6 separate regions of the Homo sapiens genome follow, and all the other regions are linked to region 1. Evidence: fine-mapped expression QTL. A gene starts in region 1. Each other region holds a variant in brackets. All regions are shown on one strand. Distances are from middle to middle.

Region 1 (4,000 bases):
ATACCTTTGGCTCAAGCCAGCATCACCCTGTCTTGGATTAATGCTGGTCTCACTGCTTCCATTCCTGCCCTCTGCCCTGTCTTCCCCAACTATTCTCACCAAGGCAACCAGAGTGACCCTTCATAAGTAAAGGTAAATCACATGGGTCCTCTGCTACTCACTTCACCTGGGCAGGAAAGCCAATGCCTTGCCAAGGCCGAGGAAGTCCTGCCCTCTCTGCCTAACTCCCTCCCCAAACTCTATTTGGCTCCTTCTGCTCCAGCCTCACTGGCCTCTTGTCCCAAACACGTCATATCTGCTCCCATTTCAGAGCCTTTTCACTTCAGGTTCCCTCTACTTGGAACAGCATTCTCCCAGATAATTCCACAGCTGCTCAATTCCACAGGTTGCTCGCTTCCTTTCTTTATTTTCTGCTCATTTGTCACTTCATCAGTGAGACCTTTCCCGACCACACTATACAAAATATCAACATCTCTTCACCCCATTTTCAATCTGATTTTTAGCATTTTGCGGAATATGTTTCTCCTAAAACGTTAGGCTCGATAAGAAATAGGCTTTCCTTGTGACTGCTGTATCCTCTAACGCCTAGAAAGTGCCAGACCCCTAAATATTTTTGAATATTCCAGGGAGCCGGGTTAAGAGAGAGGCCACCACAGCAAAGGTGGTCAAAAACGGTCTCTTAAGAGGTGCGCAAGTCGGGTGTAGTGGCTCACGCCTGTAATCCCAGCACTCAGGGAGGGTGGTTGGAGCCCAGGTGTTCGAGACCAGCTTGGCAACACACTGAGTCTTCTCTATAAAAAATAAACAAAAAAAACCTAGCTGGGTGTGGTGGCGTGCGCCTGTAGTCTCAGCTACTCGGGAGGTTGAGGTGGGAGGATCGCTTAAGCCAAGGAGGTCAAGGCTGCAGTGACTTATTTTATTTATTTATTTTTGAGACGGAGTCTCGCTCTGTCGTGCCCAGGCTGCAGTACAGTGGAGCGATCTCGGCTCATTGCAACCTCCGCCTCCCGGATTCAAGCGATTCTCCCGCCTCAGTCTCCCAAGTAGCTGGGATTACAGGCACCTGCCACCATGCCCATCTAATTTTTAGTATTTTTAGTAGAAAAGGGGTTTCACCATATTGGCCAGGCTGGTCGGGAACTCCCGACCTCAGATGATTCGCCCGCCTCGGCCTCCCAGAGTGCTGGGATTACAGGCGTGAGCCACCGCATCCGGCCTGCAGTGTTACGATCGCGCCACTGCACTCCAGCCTGGGCAACAGAGCGAGACCCTGTCTCAGAGGGATCCTATTAACTGACAACTAAGAAGGCGCAAACCATACGAAGATGTAAGCATGCCAGGCAGAAACAACCGCAGACACACAACGCCAGACACGGGAACAAACCTGTGCTGAAAGAAGGGAAAGGCAGCCAGGGTGGCGGGAGCGCAGGAAGATGAGAAAGGGCCGAAGTTGGGAAAAGTGGGCCGAAACGGCAGCAGGCATAGCCGGGGGCGGTGTTCAGGAGCTGCCTCCCGACCCAGTTGGCCTTGCAAGAGCACCTGAAACTAGGCAAAACGAGTCTCCGCTCCCCAGACCCGACCGGGCGTCAGCCACCTCTGGCGGTTTTACAGCCCCGAAGCCCCCATTCCAGCTCGCAGCGAGGCAGCGGAACACCTCGAGGATGTCCTGGCGTTCCAATCTGCGCCCCCGCCGCCCCGAAGCCCTCACCGCAGGCTGGGTAGCCAGCCCACGGAGCTCCCCCCAGGGTCCCGACTCCCCCTTCGCCCACCTTTCTTGTCGCGCTTGGATTTGGGCATCGCGCTGAATCCACGTGCGGCGGAAGACGGTGCACCCCGTTAGGACCCCGGCGGCGCGGGGGACTCTGGGACGGCCCTCGGGGGCTGCCCCTCGCGTGTGCCTGACCCAATGTGCACTGCAGCCTGCCTCTCCCTGCCAAGCCGCCGCCTGCGCTTTCTCCCGCGCCTGTAGGGCAACTTCCCGTGTGCCGAGGCAGTCCCTGAATCCCGAGCGTCCCGTCCGACCGAGGGCCTCGCGCGCTATCCCAGCTCTGTGGTCCCGCGGAGGCGGAGCCCGCGGCGCGGTGCATGCCGGGACGGCGGTGGGTGGTGCATGCGCTCGCATCATGGCGGCTGAGTGGGCTTCTCGTTTCTGGCTTTGGGCTACGCTGCTGATTCCTGCGGCCGCGGTCTACGAAGACCAAGTGGGCAAGTTTGATTGGTGCGTACGTGTGGAACATATTCGAGAGATAAGTGGCTGTTTCCCCAGTACCTGTCTCCTACCTGCTAAAGGTTGTCACTTAACAGGATTGGCCGCATAATTTGCAGGACCCAGTACAAAATGAAAACGTGGGGCCCCTTGTTAAAAAATTATTAAGGATTTAAAGTCGTTGGAAGCAGAGCCTTAAACCAAGTGTTAGGGGTCATTCTAAGCTGATCCTTGCGTGTAAGCCGGCCCTGCCATCCAGGAATGCTTGGGGTGCCGGTCAGAGATCACTGATCCCGTCCTCCCTCGTCAGGTTCGATTTTTTTGACTGTGAGGTTTCTGGTCTACCAGGTGTCAGAGGTCGCCAAGCTGTCAGTGAACTTTAATTCCTACTCGAATTGGTGTCTTGTAGGCAAGTGAACAGGAGCTTTCGTCTTAAAAGTCCTAAACTGAGTCCTTTTCCCCTCTCATCAACCTAGTCTGGCCCTGGGCTCACAGCAGGATTGCCCAAAACACTAAGCAGCTAGAATATGCCATTCACTCATTCATTCATTCACCCACCCACGTCTTCCTTAAGGCCCTGGAGTAGCTTGCTTTTGTTTGAATTTTACTAGTTAAGACTTGTGTGATCTTGGGGAAAGTGACTTAACCACTCTGTGCCTTGGTTTCTTTGTCTGTAGAATGGGTTTACTAACAGTCCGTTATCTCTTACAGTACTTGTGAGAATGAATGAGACAATCCCATTAAATTACTTAGCACAATGCCTGGCTCATTGAATGCAGTCATTAAGCGTTATCTGTTATTATTGCTATTTACACTTTATTCTTCAGGGCCCAGGTCAGATTTCTCCTCCTCTGAAGTATTTTCTGTCTTGGAAAAGTTGATTCGCATATATGTTGAGTACCTGTTATGCCAGACAGTGTGACAAATAAAACATGTTACATTTTTAATGATGTGCACAACTGTTCACAATGTCATATGTGTATGTTACACATATATATCGGGTGATATGTGTATCTAATTTTGCAGAATACTTGATATATGCAATTTTCTTAATTTTATTTTCATGAATGAATGAATGAATGAATGGCATTTCCTAACTGCTTAGTGTCTTGGGCAGCTCTGCTCTGAGCCCAGGGCCAGGTTAGGCTGATGAGGGGGGAAAAGGACTCTGTTTAAGACTTTTTTTTTTTTTTTTTTTTTTTTTTTTTGAGACAGTTTTGCTCTTGTTGCCCAGGCTGGAGTGTAATGGCGCGATCTCATGGCTCACCACAACCTCCGCCTCTGGGGTTCAAGCGATTCTCCTGCCTCAGCCTCCCGAGTAGCTGGGATTACAGGCATGCGCCACCACACCCAGCTAATTTTTGTATTTTTGGTAGAGACAGGGTTTCTCCATGTTGGTCAGGCTGGTCTCAAACTCCCGATCTCAGGTAATCCACCCGCCTAGGCCTCCCAAAGTGTTGGAATTACAGGTGGGAGCCACTGCGCCCAGCCAAGACTTTTTAAAATTTTTTGAGACAGGGACTCATTCTGTAGCCCAGGCTGGAGTACAGTACTATCATGGCTCACTGCAGCTTTGACCTTGCAGGTTCAAGTGACCCTCCCAGCTCAGCCTCCTGAGTAGCTGGGACTACTGGTGCACACCTCTCCAGTTTCTTTGTATTTTTTGTAGAGACGGGGTTTTGCCATGTTGCCCAGGCTGGTCTTGAACACCTGGGCTCAAGCAATCTGGCTGCCTCGGCCTCCCAAAGTGCTGGGATTACAGGTGTGAGCCACTGCACCTGGCCTACAGTTTTC
Region 2 (4,103 bases), 170 kb after region 1:
GTAATTTTAAAGAAGCACTTAGGCCAGGCACGGTGGCTCACGCCTGTCATCCCAGCACTTGGGAGGCCAAGGTAAGAGGATTGCTTGAGCCCAGCCTAAGCAACATAGCAAGACTCTGTCTTAATGAAAAAAACAATTGTTTTAAATTAGCCAGGCTCACACCTGTAGTCCCAGCTATTCGGGAGACTGAGGTGAGAGGATGGCTTGAGCCAAGGAGGTTGAGGCTGCAGTGAGTCGTGATCACACCACTGCACTCCAGCCTGTGTGACAGAGCAAGACCATGTCTCAAAGAAAAAAAAATTAGGAGATTGACTATCCTTTAGCTCTTCCATTTAATTCACTGTTTCATGCTTGTAGGCCCCATCTCCTAGCAAGAGGCTTACGGTTCCCTGTTGAAAGGTTGTGTACAGCTCACCCCGGGTAGCTGCAGCACAGTTTAGGCAACAGGACAATCTGTCTCTTGTCTTTTCTAGTTCTTTCTCTTCAACAATGTTATCTTTTCCTTCCCTCCCATTTCCTTGTGAGTTAAAAGGCTGACCTCGAGACCACAGGCTTCATTGTTAAAACACGCAGGGGCAGGTTGACATCAGAGTGCATTACATCATCTGCTGAACTGCTTAGACTGGCGGGAGCAGCACCTGGCAGCACTGATGGCGCAGACCTTCCCACTGTCCAAATTTCGCTCCTTCTCAGTGTTCCTGGGGCCCTGGACAGAGCCCTGGGTGACTAGGTGTCAGTATGTTTCTGAACAAGCCAGACATTTGTAATTGTCAGGTCCCTTCATTGGAAAGGGAATTGGCTGTCTCACAGTTTCTTTGGTCAGCCAGAGGCTGACCCAGAAGCTTCACAGAGAGGCCTTGCTTCTCGGCCCAGACTGCTTCCCAGTCGACAGCTATCCAATTGACATTGGTGGGAGCTTGGTCACAGTGGGGCTGAGTGCCTTTGGTGGAATATTTGTTTATGGAGGCAAGTATGTCACAGCATGGCCACCGTAAGCCAGACCAGAGCCTGAGCAGATCCTGCAGCAGCCAACAGCCTCAGATTCCCTACAGGGCTGGAAGATCAAGTTGAATGTATCCATCCATGCCCATCTGCAGGCAGCAGAAGCAGGCAGGGTGTCCTTGCACCCTCTCCTCCTGCTTTCCCAGAGTCCAGCATCTGTGCCAGTGCCACCTATAGACCTGGTAACTTTTTTTTCCCGGTTCTAGTGTTGTGTTTGTCCCCACCTCTCCCTACCAGTGCCCCATGGAGTTAGGATAGGGCATCAAGCATTCATGGCATGAGAGCACCATTCAGGATCTAAGGAGAGAGTGTACCCAGAAGCGTGTCATCAGGAAGGACTTAAGTCACCTCTCAGTGCTGATTCCGTGACCTTTTGTCAAAGCTTCAGCGTGGAGAAGGAGGTAGGGTTAAGATGGACAGGCTACCTGGCTTCAGAACACAGTTTTTTCCACGATGTGAGACTTGGGCAGAATCCTTACCTCCTCTGTACTGCAGTTTTCTGTTTCTTTAAAATTGGGATAGTGGTGGCACTATCCCATAGCATTCTTGTGAGTACTAAGTGAAATAATCCCGTAAAGCACTTAGAGCAGTGCCTGGCACTGAGTCTGGTGTGGTCATCATCATCATCATCATTGCAACTTAGGACGCATGAGGACAAGAAGCAGCGCTCATCTGGAAGAGGCTGTTCTAACGAAGGCGGGAGGATCCTAGATCAGAAGAAGACAAACCGGAAGAGGGAGCCTAGGAAAGGAACCACATGCACATTTAGTGCAAACCATGTAAACATAACATAACAAGACTATGTGGAGCAAGGGGGAGTCAGGCTGTGGACCCACCAGGGAATCTTGATTCATGTTTTTGGCCCCATCACTCACTAGCTTGCTGACTTTGGGCAAGTCACTTCACTTTTCTGGGCCTCTGGAGTTACTAGCACAGTTCCATGTTGGGGAGATTGTGAACGTCCCTGATATATGGTGCTCAGGAACCAGTAGTTGCTTGGAATTGTATTAGAGCTGGGGTAGGAGCTAGACATGGGG[C/GC]CAGGGAAGAAGGGAAGATGCCGCGAAGAAGGGCCTGGAAGGGGACGAAGGGCGTGGATTATCAGAGGAAGTGGGAGTAGTCGGCAAGGATGGGTGGGGAGTGTTGAGTCATCCAAGCGTTCAGCAAATGTCACAAGACAACGACAAATTGAGCAAATTCTTCCTGCTCTTGCTGCCGGGTCCTGCTTCCACCCTGCTTTTATTTTATCATGCCGCTTTTCTTCTAGAACCCGAGCAACTTCCCGAGAAGAGAAGAACCTCCAAGGCTTTCTGGAACAGCCCAAGGAGAAGTGGGTGGAGAGTGCCTTTGAAGTGGACGGGCCCTACTATTTCACAGTCTTGGCCCTTCACATCCTGCCCCCTGAGCAGTGGAGAGCCACACGTGTGGAAATCTTGCGGAGGCTGTTGGTGACCTCGCAGGCTCGGGCAGTGGCTCCAGGTGGAGCCACCAGGTCAGTACCTGCTTCCGGAAGCTGCTGCTCACTATTTCCCATCATCAGTTTTGAAAAGCTGCTTAGTGGTACGCACGTGCTAGGTGAAGGCATGCTTTGTGACTGCGGTGGTTGACACCAGCCCTTCTCCCTTCTCAGTCTGTCATGTCAAGAGTCTAAGCTGATGGCTGGCAGGTTGCCTGGTCATTTCTGGGTTTTCTGTTCCGCTACTAGAAAGGTAGAGCCAGTCTTACCTACTGTAGAAAATGTTAGGAAGGCAGCCAGGCACAGGGTGATAAAACCAATGAGATGATCAGGGCTAAGAACAGTAATCAGGTTTTCCACATCTTGCTGGTGTTGGCATAAGCCAGGAAAGTTTCAGTGTGGCCACATGGGGTATTTTCTAATAATTAAAAACTCGTCTTCATTCTCTCTTCTTGGTTACATTCCTATCCCATGCGTCCCACATTCCATGAACCTTTCTTCCTCTAGACCACTCTCCTATACGTGTGGACACCTCCCCAAGAAAGAGCATGTCAGAAAGGAAGTGGTCTTTGATTTATGACCTTGGGCTGTGATTTGGGACAGATGGTCTCAAGAGAAACAGCTGGAAACTGCCACCACAGCATCTCTTTGAGGACCCCCATGGATTGCTGTGCGCAGAGGAGACCCCATGGGTACCACTCAGGCTGCCAATGGCCCCACACAGTCTCTACCTTTCCTGGGGAGCTACGGAGCAGGCTCTGGGTTTGGCATTTTGCTTCTGTCCCTCGAGTGAAATGTGCCTCTGCTTCATTTCTGGAAGATCGGGTTTGTGATTTTTGTGATTCTGCTTTAGCCCAGGATTCGAGGGATCATGTCCACATTTGTAGGCCATCCAGGGAGCAGAGAGAAACTTTTAGGGCCGTGATAAAGACAAGCCAAGTGGAAAATAGCCTGTGCCCTCATTGGCACACCTGGTGTCTTTATTTCCATTAGCCCTGATTGATCAAGCGTTGCTGGTCTGTGGGCACTTCACGCTCCCAGAGAGACCAGATTGGAGCTGTCCTGTTGAATCTGGCCTGTACCAGATCATCACTGGAGAGTGGGAGGGGGCGTCTTGTTAGATTCCTAGGTAACCCCTGCCCCCATTCCTAACATATCACTTTCCAGTATTTCCCAAGAGCCTGAATTAATAGTTAACTAGCTGCTGGAAATCAAAAGTTAGATCTTGAGAATACTAAGTTGATAAGTCAGGCTTGGCCAGTATCCATATGCTGCATCCACAGCAAATAGAGTGGCCATTTATTGGGCACAGTCTCTCCATGGCGGGTGTGCAATCTGAACCCACAGGAGCTGTTTTGCTCTCACTTAGGAGACTAGCATTCATTATTGTCCCAGGCAGTTCAGGAAAAGCTGATTTGGTCACAGCTTAATTAGGAAATCCAGTGTGAGCTACTACATTCATGAGTTGCTGTTTTCTCTGTAGCAGTTTCGTCACCTTTACTAATTGGCCTTAAATAATTAAGTTGGGCAGGGTCACTCAGGATTTCTGCTTACCAAAGCACAACAGCCACAGCAAAGGGCCAAATACGGCCGTGGTCCGGGGCCGTGAGCCCGGCACTCATCAGGCAGACTAGGAAAGGCACTGTGG
Region 3 (4,103 bases), 190 kb after region 1:
GAGATGAGCTTCTGGGGCGCTGGGGTGAGGAAGCTGTGGTGGGAGGTATCTAAGGTCACCACCTCTGACGGTGGTGGGACCCACAGTGGGTATGGGGCAGCAGGATCTGTGCTTTGCTGAGTTTCTGAGTCAGGGGGCTGGGACAGGACCAGAATTAGCCCCAGGTGCCAAGTTTACAGGGGGAAGTCATCCAGAGCCCCGAACTCTCACGCAGGATGGGAGGTGGGGGTGTTCTGGGCATGGGCAGGAGTGAAGGGCACAGGGTCTCAGGCTCATTGTTCTTTGGACTCTGTTCCTTAGATCCCTCTGCTGCCTTTGGCCAATGACCTTGACACCCCATCCACCCCTTCTGTCCACAAGCCAGCTTGGTCCCGACAAGGAGTCCTGGCTGGACCCCTTGTTAGGCTGTTCCCGGCTTCAGAGATCTGGGAACTGTACCAGAGTTGTATTTACTGAGCACCCACTCCAGCAGGATCACCATGCCTCACGTGATCTCCAGTCCTTTTACTGTTGTTCTTCCTGTTTTACAGATGAGGAACCTTAGGCTCAGAGAGGCAAACTCACCTACCCAAGGCTGCACAGCACGTAAGTGAGATGCAGCCTCCCTGTCCAGCCAGCCTGAGCCCTGCTTCTTCACCTGGCCCTGCTCCCCATCTGGTCTGGGCACGGATTGGGTTAGATCATCCCAGCTCCCAGCAGGAGGGCACAGCTCTGGGATCCAGGGTTTGGCCAGGTGCCCAGCAGGCAGGCAGGGCAGCCACAGCCAAGGGTTAACTGGCCGCAGGCTGGGAGCCGTGCTCGGGGCTGGGCGGACAAGGTGCAAGGCCCTGGGAACCAGCTCCAGGCCGGGCTGACAGGGAGCTCCGCAGGCACCCCCATCAGCCCTCGTGCCAGAACAAACAGGGCAATTAGGAGGTGGCTTTTGTTTGGTGGGGCCTGAATGCTGGGCATGGAGCTGCTGGCGCTTCAGCCCCTACCCCCTCATGTGGCGGGAATCTGCTCGTTCACGGGACAGGGTCACATGCGGAGTGTCACAGCAGACAAAAGGACAATGCCACTCTGTTTCCTCGCCCAGTTTCAGAAGTGATGGCTGGAGGGCTGCTGCTTTTCACAGCACAGTGTGAATGGGGCCACCAGTCCCTCCCTCCCTTCCTGTCCCGGCAGCCAAAAGGGCTCCAGTCACCTCAAGAGCCATCGATCACAGGGGTGGCCCAGGCCATGGGACGCGGGCCCAGCACCTTCCCATTTCCCTCGCTCTGGGTTCTGCCTTGGGGCCCCACTTGGAACCCACTGTGCAGGGCTGGATTCCATACCCGACGGTCGTGTCCCGAGTCACCTCTCTGAGGCAGGCACTGTTAATCCCATTCCAATGAGGGAATCGGGGCTCGAGGATGAGGTTGCTTCACCCAAAGGAGGGGCTTGGGTTAGGGCTGCTGGGTGAAATTCAAGGTGCCAAGTTAAATCTGAATCTCACATAAACACCAAATACATGTAAACCTCTGACGGTGGCGGGACCCACAACGGGTATCGGGCAGTGGGATCTGTGCTTTGCTAGGTTCCTGAGCCC[A/G]GTGGGCTGGGACAGGACCAGAATTAGATCCAGGTGCCAAGTTTACAGGGGGCTCAGCCAGCGCCCTGAACTATTACAGTCTTTAGTATGGAGTATACTAAAAAAACATGACTCACCATTTCTCTGAAATACAAACTTCCCTGGACAGCCTGTATTTTTATTGACTAAATCTGGCAGTCCTGGCACAGGTGCTCACAGGACGTGCTGAGTTAAGCCAGCTCAGGCCCTGACCTCAGGGAGCCCCCTCTGCTTCAGAGAGACAAGTCCCAGACACAGGTTCCCACATGGAGGCCGTCGGAGCAGCAGGTGCCCTTGCCTGGAAGCCAGGACAGGCCTGGAGTGTCAGGAACAGGGACGTCGAGGGGCTGGTGAAGGGGCCAATCTGAGCGCCACGAGGGCCCTGAAGTGCTGTGAGCAGGGGAGGCAGGTTCCAGAAGCCTCAGGACCCCGCCTTTCTGCAGCGTTTCCTCTCCACAGGACTGTGCTGAGTCCTGGGGAGGGGGTGGGGGCTGCTCCAGGCGGCTCCCCAGCCCCTCCCTGCCTCGTCTCTCTGAGGCCGCTCCCTCCTCTGCCCCACCACACCTGCCAGCTCTGCATGGGGCCCCGAAGCCAGGGCTGGGTGGAAAGTGGTTGAGGTTGGAGTCTGGGGCCAGATTGGGTTCAGGGCTGGCTGGGCAACAGCCCTTCACCTGGCCAGGCCTTCGGTTTCATGTGTAAAGCAAACATGCCTCATTGGATTCACCAAGAGCCTGGCACAGAGGCGGCGCTGGAAGTGCGTCATTGGAGTTATGAAGGACCTACTCCCAGGAAGGGTCTTCACAGAAGCGGTTTCCGTTCCGTCTAAGGAAAACACAGCTGACAGCAGGGCTCCCACAGTGACAAGAGCTGTTTGGAGGTAGTGAGTCCCCTGTCATTGGAGGTATCCAAGCAGAGGCCAGTCTACTGGCCGTGCCTCAGATGTGTCACTTGGGAGGTGACAATGTCAACGGTCATTTCCAACTCTATGGGCTGGGTGGCAGGTGGAAAGTTCAAGGGCTTTGGTGTCAGACAGTCCTGGGTTCTAATTCTGGCTATGCGACCTTGGACAAGCTGCTTCCCCAGCAACCTCAGTTTTGCCCCTTGTAAAAGGCAGTCAGCAGCCTTGCCTCACAGGATAGATGTGACATGTTTGTTTGCAAAGTGCCCAGCTCTGAGCAGATGCCAAGGAGTTGTGGGTTCTAAGACACATCTCCCTGATGTGGGAACAGAGGCTTCTGAGAAGCCTTCCAGGGCCCGGCTGGGAACCACCCCGTCCTCCTCCCGGTTACCCTGGCTGGCACCCCAGCCGCAGGGTTGGACTGCGGTAAGAATGGCAGACAGGTTTCTCAGAATCCAAACGGACCCTGGGGACAGCGGTGGCTCAGAGGGGAGAGCCCTCTGCCTCCCTGGGGCCTGACGTTCCAGGGTTGGGATGGTGGGGCCCGGAGCCTGGACTGCGCTTGCCTACCTGCCAGGGAAGGCAAGGCAGCCTTGAACCAGAGGGGCGGGCAGGGATGGGCCCAGGCTGGGCTTCCTTCCCTGCCATGTCGTGCTGCTCTGAGCACCACACAGGGTGGCGTCCGGCCTGGGAGAGCCATCAGCACAAGACGGCTGGCATGCCCATGGCTGTTTTCATTCCATTAACTCCTGAAGGGTGGCGGACCCTCAGGGGTCAGATCCAACCAACCTCAGACAGGGAAACTGAGGCCCAGGAGGGGCAGGGCCTTGCACAAGATCATGGTATCAGGCACTACCAGGCCCACAGCCTCATCAAGAAGCGGGCGTAGGTGCTGTTCAGACCAGGGCTGGGCCGCCAGGTGCTTCCCACACCGCAATTACCTGCCAAGGTGTGCCTCGCTCCGTGGGAAGTGCTTACGGGGAGTTTCATCCTATAACCACCCCGTGAGGCCGGCACTATTACTTGCATCTTCCAGACAAGGAAACTGAGGCCACTCCGTCCAAAGTGACAAACAGGGATTTAAGTCCAAATCCAAGACCATCCCCTTTGCCACCTCATCTTGGTCCGCAGTCCAGCTGGACATTACCTGGGAAATATACAGACTTGACTGGCCAGGACTGTGGGGACAGACACAAAGAACTTATTGTCCCAGAGGCTGACCTGGCTGAAAATGGCAGATCAATTCCAGCAGAGCTTACCAAACTGGGGTGGCAAATCCTGCCTGCTTTTGGACAGCCAGCAAGGAAGAATGGTTTTCACATTTGTAAAGGGCTGGAAGAATATGCGACAGATACCAGAGGTGGCCCTCAAAGCCCAAGACATTTCCTGCTTGGCCCTTTCTAGGAAAAGTTGCTAAGCCCTGGCTGAGAAAAAGGCTGGCCCAGGGATCTCTGGAGGATTACAGGAGAGAGACACAGGCCTGGGAACCACCGCGCCTGCCCCAGCGCCCATCCTCCAGGCCACCTGCCCATCTCTCTGCCAATGCTAGGGAGGGAGGCAGCTTAGGTGGGAGGACACTGGCCTTGGGAGTCAGACAGACTGAGTTCCAGGTGGAACTCT
Region 4 (4,103 bases), 870 kb after region 1:
GCTCTGTGTACACTTGTGCCTTTAATAAAACCTACAGCTTTTCTGAGGTCAGGACAGTAAATCTGAAAACCCTGCATCACTGTCTTGTGAGGGCAGCCAGTGCCTCTTGGATGGGAGCCACAGTTCACTGCCCTGCGTCTCCCTGCAGACAAGGTAACCATGGCCCAAGATGAAGCTGGCTGCTGGGTCACAGTTACCTGTCAGGGACGGGGCCTCCAGATCCTCTCCTGCTTGGCCAAGAGCCCTGGCCAGGGTATAAGCAAGAGGGATAAAGGTCTCCAGTCTGCGGAGGCGAGAGGGCCAGAGGAGCATGTGACTTCCATTGGGGTGGGGGCTGTTGGGCCCCAGAAGCACAGTGCCCCAATGCTGTGGAGAAGACGGCGACCACAGACTCTGATTCTCTCACAGGCTCCTGGCCAAATGGACCACCATAGAGCCAGCGCCAGCCCTCCTCCCTGGAAGGGGCAGCCTTCCTCCTGGAAGGGGCAGCAATAGGATGAGGGGCATGGCTTCCCCGACTTCCTGTGTCCAGAGTGATGGGGAGGACCCCAGGTGTTCACACTTGAAGAGCCCAGGCCAGATAAAAGATGGGCCCATCTTAGAGCCACCACACACAAGACTGCTAACTACCAGCTGTGGGCACTTCTTGCTGATGAGCCCAACTCTGAGGGCTGATTGCCCAGGAGGCGGGGGCTGAGTCCTGGGCTGATGTGGTGGGTGTTGGTGACAGTGGCCCCCTTGAGACCCAGCAGGTGTCTCTGCATCTACCCGGCCAGCCGGGCACACCTACAGCCAGCAGGGATCAGTGGGCACCTTGGGCCATCCCAAGAGGCAGCTGACCAGCCCAGGGGGCCTCTGCACAGCCAGAGTACCCCTGGGGGAATCTGCAGATGGTGGGTGGTGACCAGGACTCATGACTGGGAAGAGCCATGGGCTGAGGTGGAGTTTCCAAGGAATGGGGAACTTGGTGGTCTGGCCAGGCCCAGCGGCCATGTGTTTGGCCAGTCTATTTTTTTAAAGATGAGGTCTTCTCAGGTGACAATGCAAACCTAACCAGAACTTGGGGCCTTGTCCCTCCTAGTGACCTGCAGCATTTGGGCTGGTGTCTGAGAGATAGCTGAGGCACCTGAACTAACCTGGGGCCAAATTGCATTGGTGGCAGAGTTGACTTTGATGCTCCCTCTTATCCTTCAAGGCCTAGCTGCAATGTCACCATTTCCTAGAAGCCTGCCCTGATGTCCTTGGGCAGAACAGCCTTTCACCCTTTCTGTGCCCCATTGCATCCTCTTCATACTTTTATTCTGATATTTATCACATGGAATTGCAGTGCTCTCTCCCCCAGGTCTGTCATTCCTGATGGATGGGAGCTCTTTAAGGGCAAGGCCTGGCTTGCTTGTCTTTGTGCTTCTCCTGCCTGGCATAGAGCCTGGCCCGGGTGATGCTCAGGGTTTGTCCAATGAGTGAATGAGCGTGTGGATGAATAAATGAGCATCCATCTCCCCTTTCAGGCTGGGCTCTGTTTTGCCCATCGCTGTCCTCCCACTTCTCAATTTCAGGTTGAATAAGCCACCATCTCAGCCTGCTCAGGGCTCAAAGTCCTCAAATTCAAAGCCCAAAGCAGGCAGCCGCCCCAACCCTTTAGCCTTAGGCCTCCCAGCTGGCTCTCTTCGGGCGTGTCCCCTGCCACTTTGCGTGGTTCATCCACTTGCTGCTGAGATATTAATGCCCCTCAGGGGTCAGTGGAGCCCAATGACCATGCTGTGAATGGAGCAAGGCAATTCCAATTTCATGCCTACATGGGCTTCCCTCTGTTAAGAAAAAGAGCGGGAACACATCTTTCTTTTTTTTAAAATTTCCTCCAGAAAACAGGCAAAGGTAGCGTGCAGCAGAGGCTTATGTAGAATTGCTAGCAGACAGTGAGGGGCCAGGTGGTTCCCATGAGACAGAGCAGGGCTTTGGGGAAGAAGGAAGTAGACGGAGGAGGCAGGGGGTACTCTGTTGTTGTTGCCTGCTGATCAGGCCTGGGTGTTTGTACACTGATGATTATCTGAGAGCCTTCAGCAACTGAAAATCATCTACTTCTGTCTTGTTATCAGCTTGCAAAATACAGGCATACAAATATTTATTACTGTTCTCACTGGCCTCCT[C/T]TGACTAATCCCTCTCACATTGATGCTTCAGCGTCCTGAGCAGGTCCTGGTGCCAAGTGCACATCACAGTTTGACTTCCATTGTTTAGCTGGATAGATGCTTTCCCAACCCAGGACTGTGAGCTCCTTGAAGTTTTCTTGCTCATCTCTGCAGCCTGGTGACCAGCACAGTGCTTGGCTCATAGTAGGTCCTTGGGAGGTACTGATTCATTCATTCATCATTCATTCACTCACTCAATAATTTGTTATTGAGCCATGTGCCAGGCTCTGGTCTAAGTGTGAGGATACAGCAGTGCACAATACAGACCTGGTCCCTGTGCTCATGGGGCTGACGTTCTGGCTCAGGGTAGGGAAAGACTGCCAATAAATAAACAAGTAAGTAGAAAAAGCATAGGGTAATAATGCATGCCTTGCAGAGAATTAAATCGAGGGTGGCACGATGGAGAGGGGTGTGGTGGTCAGGTAGGTCTCTCTGAGTGGGAGTTAAGCTGCCATCCAATTGCATGGAGGAGCCAGCCCTGCAAAGGAGAAGAGAATTCCAGGTGGAAGGAACAAGTAGAACAAAGGTCCTCAAGCAGGAGCGGACTTGAAGAATTCAGTGAATGGAAAGATGAGTGTGAATGAAGCAACAGGAGAGAGGGAGTGGGGATGAGACACGTTAGAGGGTCAGGCAGAGCAGACCACATCCAGTCGACCTGTAAAGGGCTCAGATTTGTTTTCTGTGTGATGGGAAGCCAGGGTTCTGAGAAGGAGGTCGCTGTGGCATGACAGATTTAAAAGGATTCCACTGGCTGCTATGTGGGAGACTGGACTGGAGATTGGGGAGGAAATCTGAAGACCAGATTGGAGGCTGAGGTGGTTTTCCAGGCAAGAGGAAGCTTTGTCTAGGTTGGCAGTGGGGAAAGAAAAAAGTGGGTAAATTCTAGATGAGTTTTGAGAGGAAAGCCAACAAGCTATTGGGTTGGATGCGGAAGAATGAGAGAAAGAGATAAATGAAAGATAACAGTGAAATGTTTGACCAAAGCAACTGGGTTGATGGTACTATTTCTAGAGAAGGGGAATGCTAGGGAAGGAGCATGTTTTGGGAGGGAAAGCCAAAAATTGGGTTTTGGCCACATGAAGTTGGAAATGCATATTTGATGTCCAGTGAGGTAGGGGAACCATATTATGAAGTTGGACATCTGAGTCTGGAATTCCAAGGAAAAGTTAGGGAGTCAGAAATTCGAAAGTCAATGTGGAAATTGATTGAAATGGTCATTCAGGACCCGACTTGACCAGGGCCAAATGGGCTATGATGACCACAAGGAGATAGAGCCAATGCTTAATTCTCAGCTTGGTGTGTCTGGCACCTGGAGTTTTTGTAGGGATGTCCCTGATTCTTTAAGACATTTGCACTGTCTGAGAGAGAGGCACAGATGACTCAGTGATGTCTCTGCTGGTTGGAAAGGGAGAAGAAGCACAGGGCATTCATGCAGCAGAAGTGATGAGAGCCATTTCTGGTGATGGAGCCTCCTCCCAGTCCTCCCTCCTCTGGCCACTCTGGCCTGGGCGGAATTCATTCATTTCCATGGGATGAAATAAATGAATGAATAATTTCCATTCATTTCATTTCATGGAAATGAATCATTAAATGGGTCCCAGCTTCTCTGTGGAAGATGCAATGCTCTGGGGTCATCATTCTATTTCCTTCTCCAGGGCACACAGGAAAGCTGCATTTCCCAGCCTCCTTTGCAGTCAGATTGGGCCATGTGACTACTCCTGGCCAATGGGGTATGGACAGGGGTGATTTATGTTCTATTAGGCCTGGGCCTTAATCACATCCTGGGTGATCATATTAGTTTCCTAACTGCTGCTGTAACAAATTGCCACAAACCTAAGTTTAAAAGAATATGGCAAATTTATTCTCTTAGTTTTGGAGTCAGAAGTCTGAAATGAGTCTCATGGGGCTAAACATGTT
Region 5 (4,103 bases), 64 kb after region 1:
GGATCAGTGTATATGAAATACTGCATCATCTTTTCAGTGACACTATTAAAATGTCTAAGTTTTTAATGGCCAGCAGTATTCCACTATGTAAATATACCGTAGTTGCCTAATTCCCCTATTGCTAAGCGCTTATTTAGATTGTTCCAAATGTCTTGTTTTGATAACTTCCTGAAATATAAACTTTTGGGAACTTAATTGTCCTGTTGGGATGAATTCCCAAAAGTACCGTTGTTAGGACAAAGGGCTCACATATTTAAACATTGGAAATGTTTTGTCAAACTACTCGTTAGAAAAGTAACACTAATCTGCATTGACACCAGCTGTGTGCTTATATGCCCATTTCCCCATGCTCTCTTTGACAATGGGCATCATTAGTCTTCATGTTTGCTTGTCTTAGAGGAGAGAATGCTATGATATTTCATGTATTTGTATTTCTTTGATTACTAATGTGATTGTATTTCCTTTCACCTATTTATTGGTCATTTGTATTTCTTTTGTAAACTGCCTTATGTCCTTTGCCTTGGTTTTCTTTTTGGTATTTGTCATTTTCTTTTTAATTTTTTTATTATTATTTTTACAGAGGTAGAGTCACTTTGTCTCCTAGGCTAGAGTGCAATGGTAGGATTATAGCTCACTGTAACCTTGAACTCCTGGGCTCTGGTGATCCTCCCACCTCAGCCTCCTGAGTAGCTAGGACTACAGGTGTGCACCACCATGCCCAGCTAATTTTTAAAATTTTTTGCAGAGATGGGATCTTGCTGTGTTGACCAGGCTGGTCTTGCACTCTTGGCCCCAAGCAATCCTCCTGCCTTGGCCTCCCAAAGTGCTGGGATAATAGATGTGAGCCACCGCATCTGGCCTGTGTTTGTTCTTTTTTCTTTTTGATTTATATGAACTTGCAAATCATATATATTAACCTTTTGTTATGTGGAGATTTTGGACAGGAGGAAAACACTTTACTTGAATGTAATTTTCTTTTCTCTCTTTTGTTTTAAACAAAACCTCACTCTATCGCCCAGGTTGGAGTGCAGTAGTATGAACACAGTTCACTGCAGCCTCCACCTCCTGGGCTCAAGTGATCCTTCTGCCCCGGCCTGTTGGGTAGCTGGCACCACAGGTGTGCCTCACCACTTCTGGCTAAGTTTTTCATATTTTGTAGAGATGGGGTCTTGCCATGTTGCCCAGGTTGGTCTTGAACTTCTGGGCTCAAGTGATCTTCCCACCTTGGCCTCCCCAAGTGCTGGGATTATAGGCATGAGCCACTGCTCCAGGCCTCTCTTTTTATTCTCTTAGATTTGTTTCCAGATATTTTATAGAAGTTGGTAATTCAAACCTTTTTCTTTTCAAAATAATGATTCTTTAAAAGTTCAATCTACATTTAAAAGTCAGCATCTTTGTATAACCCATTAGCCTTGAACTGATTGTTTAAATTCCAAAAATTTTTCCATTTGGGAGTTTCTTCTATTCCAGGAGGTTTTATTTATTTATTTATTTATTTATTTATTTATTTATTTAATTTTTTGTTTTGAGACAAGGTCTTGTTCTGTCACCCAGGCTGGAGTGCAGTGGTGCACCTCAGCCTCCCAAGTAGCTGGTACCATAGGTACATGCCACCATGCCTGGGTAACTTTTTAATTTTTTTGTAGAGACAGGGTCTCCCTCTCTAGGTTGCCAAGCTGGTCTAAAATTGCTGGGCATAAGTGATCCTCTCATCTCGGCCTCTCAAAAGTGTTGGGATTTAAGGTGTGAGCCACCGTGCCCAGCCTAGTCCAGGAGTTCTAAACCTGAAGCCTGCAGATCCTTAGGCCATCTGTGGATGGGGTTCAAGGAGATTGTGAACTTCAGAAATTATATGCAGATGTATGTATGTACAATTTTTTTTTTCTGAAGGTCCACAGAGTCTGAAAGGGGTCTGAAACCCCAAAATGGCAAGATCCACTGCTTCAGAAGTTGTAATTTATTGTTAATTATTTTAAGGATTGTGTTTTCCTTTTTCTTTGTGTAGGCATCAGGGATTTGGGGTACTCTCAGTAATATTGGCAAACCATGCCATCAAACTGCTAACGTCTCTCTTTCAAGACCTACAAGTGGAGGCCCTTCACAAGGTGAGGAGGTTATCCCCATGGTAATCAGCATATTGATTGCGGGATCCACTTCTGGCCAAGCAAGCTTGATCCATCAACTCAAGTTGTTTTTTCTGGCTGAGTAGTATCATTAATTGCCCTTTGATATCATTGCCTTCAGGGTTGGGAGACAGATGGCCCCCCTGCAGCCTTGAGCATTATGGCCCAGAGCACCTCCATACAGAGGATTCAACGGCTGATTGACTCTGTCCCACTGATGAACCTGCTCTTGACGTTACTTTCAACTTCCTACAGAAAGGTGGGTGGGAGTTAAGCCATTGATAATTTAGAAGAATGTCTCATTTTATATATATGATATATATATGTATATATATATATATATA[TAA/A]AACTTTCTTGAAATGAATAAGACTGACTACACACCATGACCTTTATAGACCCAAAGTTTTGGTACTGGTGTTGAAGAAGTGAAAAATTCTTAGCGGGTTGAATCTATCCAAACATTTGAATCAGTTATTAATTATCAGTTTTGTGATACACGTGGCTACTTGGTGATTTGTGATGATTGGCATACTGAAGCAGAAGCATAGAGGACACTATGGAAACACTCCTGTTTTCAATTCTTGTCCACGTCTCTGGTTGGTAGTGTTTTTGTAGGGTAAAGTGATGAAAGTCCTTAATTAAGGGAGCTATTAAGAGGCATACTCTTGGATTTAGGAAAAAATAAAAGAGATTATGGAGAAAGTTTTCATGCGATGCATGAGATTAAATAGGATGGCTCCGGTTTTGTAATTGTCATTTTCCTAGGCATGTGTCCTGCAGCGGCAGAGGAAGGGCTCCATGAGCAGCGATGCCAGCGCCTCCACCGACTCCAATACTTACTATGAGGACGATTTCAGTAGCACGGAGGAGGACAGCAGCCAAGGTAGAGGCCGCTCTTTTCTCTCTCCCAGAGATAAGCTATAGAGTGCAACAGGAGTGTTCTCAGCAGATTCCTGTAGTTTCCTGACCAAACAAAAGTTTCCATTTTGTTTTCACCTGCTTAGCCTGGACCTTGGTTTTATGTGCATTCAAAGATGACATGTTATTTAAGAGCAAGTTGAGCTGTTGATGAATGAATGATGGAAACAACTTTCAGCCAAGCCTGGGTTACTTTTCATTCCTTTCCCTCCAAAATCAGAAAACATCTCAATTGTTCCATATTTCTTCCTGTGTTGACTCATTTTGTGACCTCTGCTCTAAGCTTTCTCAGTGAAACTCAAAAGGTCACATGTGAGGTGTTCGGTTTGGATGTTATCATAGTCATAGTTTAGGGAAGCTTGAGTAGAGAAACCTAATCCTGTTGTAGTGAACCCACTGGCATGCCCTCCTGCCTTAGTTTGATGAGAGAATGAATAAGGTAAGTACCTCAGATTCTTTCATAATCAGGTTTGTGGGAACAATGTGAAATACGAAGGGAGGTGTGATTCTTACCGTCCTGTGATTTATGGTTGATAAGGCAAGTATAAATTCGCTCTTGAAAATATTTGGCTTGTTACCAGTAAAATAATGTGAAGTTGTTTTTCTTTCTTTGTTGGGCTCCTTAAAGAAAAATTGGCTGGGCGCGGTGGCTCACACCTGTAATCCCAGCACTTTGGGAGGCTGAGGTGGGCAGATCACAAGGTCAGGAGTTCGAGACCAGCCTGGCCAATATGGTGAAACCCCATCTCTACTAAAAATCAAAAATTAGCCAGGCACATGCCTGTAGCCTGTAGTCCCAGCTACTCGGGAGACTGAGGCAGGAGAATCGCTTGAACCTGGGAGGTGGAGGTTGCGGCGAGCCAATATTGCACCACTGCACTCCAGCCTGGGTGACAGAGCGAGACTCCCTCTCAAAAAAAAAAAAAAAAAAGAAAAAAGAAATCAGTTTTATTGGGGTATAATTTACATGCAATAATGTGAGAAATTCTTAACGGGTTGAATCTATCCAAACATTTGAATCAGTTATTGATGATCAGTTTTGCTCTTATTTTATGTATGCAT
Region 6 (4,103 bases), 150 kb after region 1:
AGAGGCTCTGCAGCATCATTTATCCTGTAAGCAGTGCGGTGCTTCCCATGGCTCTCGAGTGTCAGCACAGCCCACTTTGCCATGAAGCCTCTTGGTGATTCATTAAAGTTATGGGGAATTGTACCAGCTGTGGGCCACTTAGTCATTAGTGAAAGAAGATCCACCGCCATAAAAGTGAAGCAACCTCATAATTTTCCTCTTGCTAACGATGGGACATTTAATGACCTTCCTTGGTCTTATTTCCTAGATTCAAGTAAAGAATCATGTTTTTTTAAAAACTAGGTCTAACCTCCATTACCAAAATCCCATTGCATATCAATCCAACATACTGTGGAAGAAGCGGTATTGAGCTTGAATATAAAGATATTTTTACTCTCTTCCTTCTTTAGCTGCCCTGTATTTTGTGCACACATGCAGCGTGTGTTTTTTTCCCTAGCCTGAACTGTGTAGAAGCACAGTATCATCCAGAGAACCCTTCCTGCTATTGAGGAAAGATGAACACTAGTATCATGAGCTAGCAATGAGAGCTCATTGGGGGTGTGTACCTGAGTGTCATGTCCCATAGAGAAGCCCTTTTCTTGACTTCAGGGTCATCAGTGACAAAGTCCTCTGGCCCCAAATTGGTTAGCATCACATGAGACCAGCAGGAGGAGGAAGGAAAGTCCCTCCTCGCACCCCTTCCCCGATTTTTTAATATATCTCTCATATGTCACTCCTTGTCTGCTTGTTTTGTTAGGCTTTATCTCCTAATCCACCCTGGGGTTTCAGGGTAGATGCTTGATATTTTAGTCTACTTGAGTTTGTTTAGATTTTTGGAAGTACCTCTGAGTTTCCTGTCCTTTGTATCTTTAAATGTTTGGGGGGCTTGCTGAGTTTGGTGTGTTTTCCTCGAGTGTCCATGGAACAAGGTAGCATGGTATAAATCTCCACCTCTGCCATCCCTTCTGATGCACCCTTCTGTCTGTCCTCCAGGAGGAGAATGAAGTCACTGAGTTCTTTGTGACCCTGGAGAAGGATCCCCAACAAGAAGACTTCTTACAGGGCAGGATGCCTGGGAACCCGTATAGCAGCAATGAGCCAGGCATCGGGCCGCTGATGAGGGATATAAAGAACAAGATTTGCCAGGACTGTGACTTAGTGGCCCTCCTGGAAGATGACAGTGGCATGGAGGTAATGACCATAGGACAGTGCTGCCCACGTTTACGATTAGGGGCTTCCTCCTAGGCTAACCAAATCCAGGTGCTTCTTCCTAGTAGCTGATTAACTTGGGGCAGGTGGCCTTCAGTTTCTCCACTCTGTAAGTTGGGGTTAATGATTCCCACCTTTCTACCTCACCTAGTGCTAAGGTTAATAACCTGTAAAGGGCTCTGCCCAGTGCCTGGCAGGAAGTAAGCATATTGTTAATGGCTGTTGGTTGTAGTGGTGGTGGGTATTTATTATCGTTATTGCCTCTGGCAGAGACTTCTCGGTGAGTCTGAGTTACCTGAGCCCCCTAAATATTGGCGTTTTACCCCCTGTGCAGGTTTATGTCCCCGTGTCAGTTACTTTCTGGCAGACCGTTGAGGGTCTGACATTTTTACATAGTGAAAAGCCTTTTCTGGTGCTGAGCCTGCAGGAGAAGGTCCCCGGTGGGTGTGTCTAAGCTGGAGCCTGTGTGTGGGTTAGGGACGTTAGCAGCCCCTGAAATTGTGCACAAAATTCTGTGTGTTTTTCATACGTGCGGATTTTTTAAGAGTGGGAGAGTTGATAGGTCCATGACATATAAAAATTGTGAATTATCAACCATTGCCGTAAGGTGCCCTTTGCTCTTGGATTTTACTTGTCTTACAATTATTTGGAACAACAGCTTCACCTGCTTTTCTGTTCAGCTTCTAGTGAACAATAAAATCATTAGTTTGGACCTTCCTGTGGCTGAAGTTTACAAGAAAGTCTGGTGTACCACGAATGAGGTATGTGCCTGCTTTCTCGTTTGGAGGTGTGGTTTCACTTTTCTGACTTATGCAGACTTGTACCAGCAGGAGCCATTGTTCATCATCACTTACCTGGCTTGTAGCAGCTCTCTAAGGCTTTACTGTCCCTGTTTGGGGTTGTGTGGAGAAAACCAATCTTGTTTTCCTTTGGAGGCATCTGACTAATGGAGGGACATTTAATGACCTTCATGAAGCTTCAGGAAAGCAAAAGCATTTTGCTGGGCTGTGCAAGTTGTCAAACCCCAAGAACTGAAAGCCAGGGGGTGTCGAAGGAGGCTCTGTGCTGGGAATGCTTGCTGTCTTGTTCCCTTCAGTATGGACACCTCTCAGCTGAGATTAGTTCTCAGCTTTTATGGGCCTGCTCGCTTAGTAGAACATTTTTCCAGTAGCTGTGTCAAGGAGCATCATTTCTGTTTTACTAGTTGGGGAATGGAGGCTCAAACAGGCAGTTATTCTTGAGGAGGGGAAAAGGGAAATGAAGGAAGTCCAGCGCTCTGGGCCTTTTGGCCA[C/T]CACGAGTGATGCTGTTTGTCCACTTATGGAAGTATTAGATGGTCCCCTTCACCTTTCCCTCCTTTCTTACTCTCTGTTCCTTCCATTCCTCTCTTCCTGTTTCTTTTTCTTCCCCTCCATTTCTCTCTCCCCCTGCCATTTCTTCCCTTCTCTTGTTTCTATTGGGAGGAGAGGTCTTTAGCACATGAATCAGATAAGTAACTTAATTACAGCAAACTAGTGTAGCAGGGATGCACAGCAAACTTTTCTAGACTTGGTCCCAAATACTTCTGTAGAGTTTGAGAAACTAAATTGGCAGTATACTATTTGTAGATTTTGATCTTCAATTTGTTACATATTTCCGCCTCTCTCCTTTCTTTTCTCCCACTGGGCTGGGAATCCTGCTTACTGTTGACTGTTGGTCTACTGCCAGTGGGGTCGTTGTTGCACTGTTGGCTGAGGGACAGGCAGAGAACTGTCCCAGCCAGTACCTCTTGTTACAGACATTGTAGCATCAAAACAGAACAATACAGATTTAATCCCTGATGCATATAAAAAATTAAGACCAAGCTTCTGTGGGCACTCTGGTAAATGGTGGTAGTGAACCCACAGAATGCACCAGGGTATCTCCCTTGAATGGTGAAGCAAGATAGAAGTTGAGAATCATTTGCCCCTCACATTGATGTGCTTAATCCAGTTAGAAGGTTTTCTGGCAAAGTTCTGAGTTTGTGATAGCCTATGTTCTGGGACTTCAGCTTCCCTTCTCTACCTTGCCCTCCATTTCCCTGATAAGCAGCCTACCTCTGTAGCTACTGACTAGAACTAGAACCTGCTCTGTGTTCAGTGTCTGTGGTGGTTCTCTCTGAGGAATTCTCACTGGGCTTCTATAGCCGGAAACACTTCTGCAACTGGCCTTTCTGGCAGGTTGTCTTCCTCCAGGGTGTCCTGTCCTGAAGCTCAGCATAGACTTGGAGGCAGGCTGCTTGAATTAGCGTGCTACCAAATCCCCCACTGGATTTCATCAGTGGTTACTTTGAGCTCCAATTTCTAGTCTGCAAAATGAGAATAATATTAATATATGTGCTCAGTGCCAGACATACAGGGAACTTTCCTTATTCTCCAATTTAGTGAAGTTGCTGTAATTTTGTCATTTATAAAAGACTTGATTCTTATCATTCTAGTCAGATTGTGGGTTTAGCTTAAAGAATTGTGGATGAACCCCCTCCTTGTATGGTTATATAAAGACGTCTGAATCTCTGTAGGTAAAGATTGATGTACTCTCTTTTCCTGTTTTGATTCCCGAGGCTTGAGTCAAAGCTCTTTGATTTAAATGGCCTTGTTTGTCCTGGGTAGTAGTCCCTATTGATTGGAGACAGTTTCTACTCCTGAGGAAGGTCCAGGCTTGGAATTAGACCTCCGCTTATAGCTTGGTAACCTTGAACAAGCTGTGTAACCTTATGTAAAAGGATCATAGAAAGTACTTAATTAGCATAGGACCTGGCACAGAGTAAAACATTCAATAAATATTTGTTAGATTATTACATAGTGTTCTAATGAAATTGAAGGAGATAGTGTCTTTAAAATGTTTCATACAATGTCTAGCTTCTAGTAGACACAAAATAAAATTAGCATTCTTTCCCCTA

Direction of the effects. Alleles are on the strand shown, and positions count from the first base shown. SD is a standard deviation of normalised expression in the study named. Not every link is listed here.
As copies of C replace T in region 4, the expression in monocytes of the gene that starts at base 2,109 in region 1 goes up (large effect, 1.0 SD a copy in BLUEPRINT).

Evidence for each region. PIP is the estimated chance that this variant, and not a neighbour inherited with it, causes the effect. A credible set is the group of variants that fine-mapping cannot tell apart.
Region 2: its variant is the best candidate, but not a certain one, in a credible set for the expression of EMC1 in nasal epithelium (TOPMed, PIP 0.78).
Region 3: its variant is the best candidate, but not a certain one, in a credible set for the expression of EMC1 in lung (GTEx, PIP 0.90).
Region 4: its variant is the best candidate, but not a certain one, in a credible set for the expression of EMC1 in monocytes (BLUEPRINT, PIP 0.79).
Region 5: its variant is the best candidate, but not a certain one, in a credible set for the expression of EMC1 in fetal neocortex (Walker 2019, PIP 0.89).
Region 6: its variant is the best candidate, but not a certain one, in a credible set for the expression of EMC1 in lung (TOPMed, PIP 0.73).

The regions. Positions count from the first base shown.
Region 1 is chr1:19,249,633-19,253,632 of GRCh38, reverse strand. EMC1 (ER membrane protein complex subunit 1) reads left to right here and starts at 2,109. Exons shown (of 23, transcript NM_015047.3): 1 at 2,109-2,218. The coding sequence starts at 2,124. It overlaps MRTO4 (MRT4 homolog, ribosome maturation factor), which reads right to left and starts at 1,828. Exons shown (of 8, transcript NM_016183.4): 1 at 1,770-1,828. The coding sequence starts at 1,797. RefSeq lists an enhancer at 1,691-2,196.
Region 2 is chr1:19,079,737-19,083,839 of GRCh38, reverse strand. UBR4 (ubiquitin protein ligase E3 component n-recognin 4) reads left to right here. Exons shown (of 106, transcript NM_020765.3): 103 at 2,267-2,491. Among named protein-coding and RNA genes, the nearest start is that of IFFO2, 130 kb to the right of the region's middle. RefSeq lists an enhancer at 1,546-2,745. The variant C/GC (reference allele first, on the strand shown) is at 2,040.
Region 3 is chr1:19,064,121-19,068,223 of GRCh38, reverse strand. No RefSeq gene overlaps it. Among named protein-coding and RNA genes, the nearest start is that of IFFO2, 110 kb to the right of the region's middle. The variant A/G (reference allele first, on the strand shown) is at 1,568.
Region 4 is chr1:18,380,296-18,384,398 of GRCh38, reverse strand. No RefSeq gene overlaps it. Among named protein-coding and RNA genes, the nearest start is that of KLHDC7A, 99 kb to the left of the region's middle. RefSeq lists an enhancer at 482-1,281. The variant C/T (reference allele first, on the strand shown) is at 2,148.
Region 5 is chr1:19,185,443-19,189,545 of GRCh38, reverse strand. UBR4 (ubiquitin protein ligase E3 component n-recognin 4) reads left to right here. Exons shown (of 106, transcript NM_020765.3): 12 at 2,006-2,105; 13 at 2,245-2,382; 14 at 2,889-3,006. Among named protein-coding and RNA genes, the nearest start is that of UBR4, 23 kb to the left of the region's middle. The variant TAA/A (reference allele first, on the strand shown) is at 2,468.
Region 6 is chr1:19,097,443-19,101,545 of GRCh38, reverse strand. UBR4 (ubiquitin protein ligase E3 component n-recognin 4) reads left to right here. Exons shown (of 106, transcript NM_020765.3): 88 at 1-26; 89 at 973-1,170; 90 at 1,869-1,949. Among named protein-coding and RNA genes, the nearest start is that of UBR4, 110 kb to the left of the region's middle. The variant C/T (reference allele first, on the strand shown) is at 2,481.